Regions from separate parts of the Homo sapiens genome. Here region 2 is linked to region 1. The links come from fine-mapping of genetic effects on gene expression. A gene starts in region 1. The other region holds a variant in brackets. All regions are shown on one strand. Distances are between the middles of the regions. Region 1 holds the start of ZNF281 (zinc finger protein 281). Region 2 overlaps LINC00862 (long intergenic non-protein coding RNA 862).

What was found. PIP is the estimated chance that this variant, and not a neighbour inherited with it, causes the effect. A credible set is the group of variants that fine-mapping cannot tell apart.
Region 2: its variant is the best candidate, but not a certain one, in a credible set for the expression of ZNF281 in whole blood (INTERVAL, PIP 0.82).

The regions. Positions count from the first base shown.
Region 1 is chr1:200,408,333-200,411,241 of GRCh38, reverse strand. It overlaps ZNF281 (zinc finger protein 281), which reads left to right and starts at 1,206. Exons shown (of 2, transcript NM_001281293.2): 1 at 1,206-1,296; 2 at 1,519-2,909. The coding sequence starts at 1,537. RefSeq lists enhancers at 628-677, 224-801, 802-1,379, 1,380-1,957 and a silencer at 1,018-1,197.
Region 2 is chr1:200,352,687-200,355,595 of GRCh38, reverse strand. All of the region lies in intron 4 of LINC00862 (long intergenic non-protein coding RNA 862), which reads left to right. Among named protein-coding and RNA genes, the nearest start is that of LINC00862, 20 kb to the left of the region's middle. RefSeq lists enhancers at 1-211, 2,021-2,521, 2,522-2,909. The variant A/G (reference allele first, on the strand shown) is at 1,580.

The DNA of each region.
Region 1 (2,909 bases):
TAGCTAGAAACATTGTGATGTACATGTAACTTCATTAAGAAAACATACTATGTAAATAAGCTGTTGTCATAGTTCTAGTTCTTTTATTTAAAATTTCTCATTTATAAATATCCTTTGCTAGGAAAGTGTCTGGTTTAGATTTCTGCATGCTTAACATGAAATCGAGTGCCTTGTGTACATTAGACACTGAATAAATATTTGTTGTTTGATTTTGTTGATATAACTTTGATTTTAAGATTTTACTTCATAATTTTCCCTTACAAGAAAAATTTCTAAATTTGCAATGAGTTTCTCGGTATTCTGTACTGGCGAGGAAAGAGTTGATCCTAGCAGAGCTCTTAGAATGGCCTGGTGGTTAATTTTTCATAAACAATATAAAGGGCCAGGCATTCATAACGTGGCAAACAGACTGATTAGCCAGGCTAAGGTACGGGGGCATTTAAATAAGATGTAATGATAATGAAGTATGTGTGTGGGCGTGTTTTACAGGACTGCTGCACCTGGATTACGCTCGGTTTCCTCTTCCAGTAGCCTTCAGGAAGGTTGGCAGTAAGACAAGTTTTTTTCTTTTTCTTTTTTTTTTTTTTGTTGCAACGGTACCACTAATTGCGGTTTCAAAGCAGGCTCCTCCCATAAATGCAAAGGATATGCGCCCATTATTAGTGCTTCCAAATTCAAAGGGATAACATAAGCACCTGTTTTAATAAATGTTGAGCATTTGGAGTTGAATGCTTCTTGATAGAATCAAAAGTGCCCTCAATGATCCACTTCTAGGTTTGAATTTTATTTCAAGACCTGGATTGCAAAACCTAGAGTGAAGAAAGCCCTAACATTGAATCCTCAGTTTCCCTCACCTTCTCTTCCAGCCCCTTTCTCTGCATCTCCCACGCCACGCTGTAGTACAGTCCCCCGTAACTTCCCGCCCCTTGGGTTCCACCTCCTGAGCGTCTTTCCCCCAGAAACCCTCAACCACTTTCATCTCCTTCAGTGCAGCCCACCAATCACGCCTGTTCGCCTCGAAAGCCCCTTTTTAGCAGGGCTCCAAATCCCCGCCTCCCCTGCCCTTGCTCCCCCGCCTCCGCCCAACGGCCCCAGTGATTGACAGGCAGGCCGGGCGGAAGCTGCGGCGCAGGCGCCCTGGCTCCTTAGCCCTCCCCTCTGGCCGGGTCGAGGAGTTCCCAGCAGACACTGCGCCGCGGCTGCGCAGTACACGGGAGGCTTTTAATTCCATTGTGGAGAGGACGGCGTTATTTTTATTAACTGGAGGCGACGGCGGCTGCGGCGGCGGCGGGACCCGTAAGTATTGCCGGTGGGTCCAGGAGGGAGAGGGCGAGGCCTGGGGAAGAGTCGCAGGACCATGCGTGCCGGTGCCGGAGGCGACTGGGCTGGGAATTAGTGCTGGGCGCGTTGCGGTCTGGGCGGCGGCGCGGCGGGGTCCTTAGCGCTGCGGTGGTCCCGGCCCGGGGCCCGGTTCCACCTCCTTTCCTCCCTCTTCCCTCTTCCTCCTCCTTTCTTCAGCCAGGCCTCCTCCGGGGTATGAAAATCGGCAGTGGGTTCCTGAGTGGCGGCGGAGGTACCGGCAGTAGCGGTGGTAGCGGCTCCGGCGGCGGTGGTAGTGGCGGCGGCGGCGGCGGCGGCAGCAGCGGCAGGAGGGCAGAGATGGAACCCACCTTTCCCCAGGGTATGGTTATGTTCAACCACCGTCTTCCCCCGGTCACCAGCTTCACCCGGCCGGCGGGGTCGGCCGCCCCTCCCCCGCAATGCGTGTTATCCTCCTCTACCTCCGCAGCCCCGGCCGCTGAGCCCCCCCCTCCGCCAGCCCCGGACATGACTTTCAAGAAGGAGCCGGCGGCGTCAGCCGCGGCCTTCCCCTCGCAGAGGACCTCCTGGGGGTTCTTGCAGTCTTTGGTTAGCATCAAACAGGAGAAACCCGCGGATCCTGAGGAGCAGCAGTCCCACCACCACCATCACCACCACCACTATGGGGGGCTGTTCGCTGGAGCTGAAGAGAGGTCTCCAGGCCTAGGAGGCGGTGAAGGGGGGAGTCACGGCGTCATCCAGGACCTCAGTATTCTCCACCAGCATGTCCAGCAGCAACCAGCCCAGCACCACCGTGACGTATTACTCAGCAGCAGTAGCAGGACTGATGACCACCATGGCACTGAGGAGCCAAAGCAGGACACTAATGTCAAAAAGGCAAAAAGGCCAAAGCCAGAATCTCAGGGAATCAAAGCCAAGAGGAAGCCAAGTGCATCTTCCAAACCTTCTTTGGTTGGAGATGGAGAAGGTGCCATCCTCTCCCCAAGTCAGAAACCTCATATCTGTGATCACTGTAGTGCTGCTTTCCGAAGCTCCTATCACCTGCGGAGACATGTCCTCATTCATACAGGAGAAAGACCTTTCCAGTGCAGCCAGTGTAGTATGGGTTTCATTCAGAAATACCTACTACAGAGACATGAGAAAATTCATAGTAGAGAGAAGCCATTTGGATGTGATCAGTGCAGCATGAAGTTTATTCAGAAGTACCATATGGAGAGACACAAGAGGACACATAGTGGAGAAAAGCCATATAAGTGTGACACTTGCCAACAGTATTTTTCAAGGACTGATAGATTGTTGAAGCACAGGCGCACATGTGGTGAAGTCATAGTTAAAGGAGCCACTAGTGCAGAACCTGGGTCATCAAACCATACCAATATGGGTAATCTGGCTGTGTTGTCTCAGGGAAATACAAGTTCTTCAAGGAGAAAAACAAAGTCAAAAAGCATAGCTATTGAAAATAAGGAACAGAAGACCGGTAAAACAAATGAATCGCAAATTTCAAATAATATAAACATGCAGAGTTACTCAGTAGAAATGCCTACCGTGTCTTCCAGTGGAGGCATAATTGGCACTGGAATAGATGAACT
Region 2 (2,909 bases), 56 kb after region 1:
TTTCCAATGTTGCCAATGTTTAGTGCTACAACAGGGATGGGGGTGTGGATGGACCAACAGGCTAGCTCAACATTCTTTTGAATTTGGGTTAAGTGACTGATTTAGGGTAAGAGTGGCTCCCAGGGCCAGGCGCGGTGGCTCACGCCTGTAATCCCAGCACTTTGGGAGGCCGAGGCGGGCGGATCACAAGGTCAGAAGATCGAAACCATCCTGGCTAACATGGTGAAACCCCGTCTCTACTAAAAATACAAAAAATTAGCCGGGTATGGTGGCGGGCGCCTGTTGTCCCAGCTACTCGGGAGGCTGAGGCAGGAGAATGGAGTGAACCCGGGAGGCGGAGCTTGTAGTGAGCCGAGATCGCGCCAGTGCATTCCAGCCTGGGCTACAGAGTGAGACTCCGTCTCAAAAAAAAAAAAAAAAAAAAAAAAAAAAGAGTGGCTCCCGAATTTCTTGGGTAGGAGTAAAAAAGATTTTACGGTATTTTTTTTTCTCACCTTAGTTCTTTAGAATTATGCTGGAAGGAACCAATTCACCTCAAATACCAAGGAAATGGGTGTGATGTAGTAGGCAGAGGAGTAGCCTTTTCCATACTGCCAGCAGAATGGAGACAGACCTGGGCTCGCACACACCACCCGGACCCAGGAGTGGGTGGTTCAATGTGTACTGTTAAGACTAAAGAAGGTTGGCCAGGCGTGATGGCTCATGCATGTAATCCCAACATTTTGGGAGGCCAATGCGGGCGGATCACTCGAGCGCAGGAGTTTGAGACCAGCCTGTGCAACATGGCGAAACTCCATCTCTACAAAAAATACAGAAAAGCTGGGTGTGTTGGCACGCACCTGTAGTCCCAGCTGCTCTGGAGGCTGAGTTGGGAGAATCACCTGAGCTCAGGAGGTTGAGGCTGTGTGAGCCATGGTTGCACCACTGCACTCCAGCCTGGGCGACAGAGACCCTGTCTCAATTAAAATAAAAAAGAAGGTCATGTGAAAGCTCACTGTGAACAGGACTTTTTTTTCTCTGTAGGTGCTTCATTGTTACTTCAGTTTACTTGAACTCATTTCATTGTTTTCACACTGTTATGAAATGCTCTCAACAATAACTGCAACAACAAATAGAGAAGAAAGGAAGTATTTAGTAATATCAAGAGAGGGCCGTGGTTAGCATGAGACATCTTGCGTTATTCACCACTGCAATGAGAAGAAAAAGACTGAGCAAAGGGAATTTCATCCATTTCTCAAGGATTTAGAGAGCTACATGCTCCATTTGAAGGTCACATTGTACATGGTGAGGTCACATTAAGGGAATTGACTTCCTCCTCTAAATCCCCCTGATCTTTATATATTTCTTTCCATGGTTTTATGCTAATACTTTGAAGAACTGAAGAATGTTATGAGGTGGCCAGGGAATGCTATGGTTCCAGGTAAATGTATTTTCAAGGTCTTTGGCAGTCGGTAAACCATTTTCCAGGACACACTTTGGTGTAAGCATACTAGTAGTAATAGTAACAAGTATTAGCAGGAAAAACTATCTTAGTTTTTTGAATTTATACTTAATATTGTTATTGTTCTTACCTTGTTTT[A/G]TAGCTGAGATATTAAGTTCCCTGCTGTGTGCTGAGGGCATTGAGAACCCAAAGATAAAGAGGACACAGCCCCTCTAAAAACCTTTCTAGGGCCCTGTGGCTCCTTGTCCTTGGGTGGAATTCAGGGGCCCTGTGAACTTTTATAGGAAAAGATTACAGTTTTATCACCCTCTAACTGCAATACAGTATTTCCTTCAGTTATCAATGGTAATGACAAGCCACAGGAGTGACAGCTATTCCCATTTATACATATCACTACTTTGAAATAATGGTAGTCATTTGATTTACCACTAGATCAATAACAAGGCACATATGGTATGACAGCCAATAAATGTTTGAATAGTTTGATAACTGTATTTCATAATTAGTTTTCTGCATATGCCTATGTCTATTTTACCATATTTTGAGAAGGCTTTAGGAGGCACAAAAAAAGGTTAAGAACCCCTTTCTGTTTACTATCTCATGAGGAAGGCTAGAAGCTTCAACAGATAAAATCAGTACAAAGTGGTGAGTGGCAGCTAGAAACATGCTCAGGAGCTGTGGAGCACAGGCTTGAGCAGAGATTCAGGGAAGGCTGATGGAGAAGATTCCTGAGCTGCATCTGGAATGAAGAAGAAACAGAAGCAGGAAAAGGTCATTCCCAGGAGAGAACAGAACAGATCTTAGGGCAGGAAATGGCCTATGTGGAAGGCGGGTACTGACAGTCAGAGCTTGCTTACTGTGCTAAGTCTTGGGGGCTCAAGAATGAATGAGGGACCTCCTAGGTGGTCAGTGTGCTCACTGTTCAGAACAATGTTTATGGGGACAGGGTGGAGAGGGGTATAGTTTGAAAAAGGAAATTTTTTTTTTGGACACGGAGTCTCACTCTGTCTCCCAGGCTGGAGTGCAATGGCATGATCTCGGCTCACTGCAATGTCTGCCTCCCAGGTTCAAGCGATTCTCCTGCCTCAGCCTCTCGAGTAGCTGGGATTACAGGTGTCCACCACCATGCCCGGCTAATTTTTGTATTTTTAGTAGAGATGGGGTTTCACCATGTTGGCCAGGCTGGTCTCAAACTCCCAACCTTAGGTGATCCGCTCGCCTTGGCCTCCCAAAGTGCTGGGATTACAGGCATGAGCCACTGTGCCTGGCCGCCTTTCTAGAATTTTATATGAGTGGAATCATACACCATGTGCTCTTCTCTTTGGTCTGGCTTCTTTCACATGGCATAATGCATTTGAGATTTGTTCATGCTGTTGCAAATCAACAGTTCATTCCCAATTTTTTTGCCAAGCAGTATTTATTATAGAATTATATACTCTGAAAAGGGGAAAAAAACCAACCTTTGTTT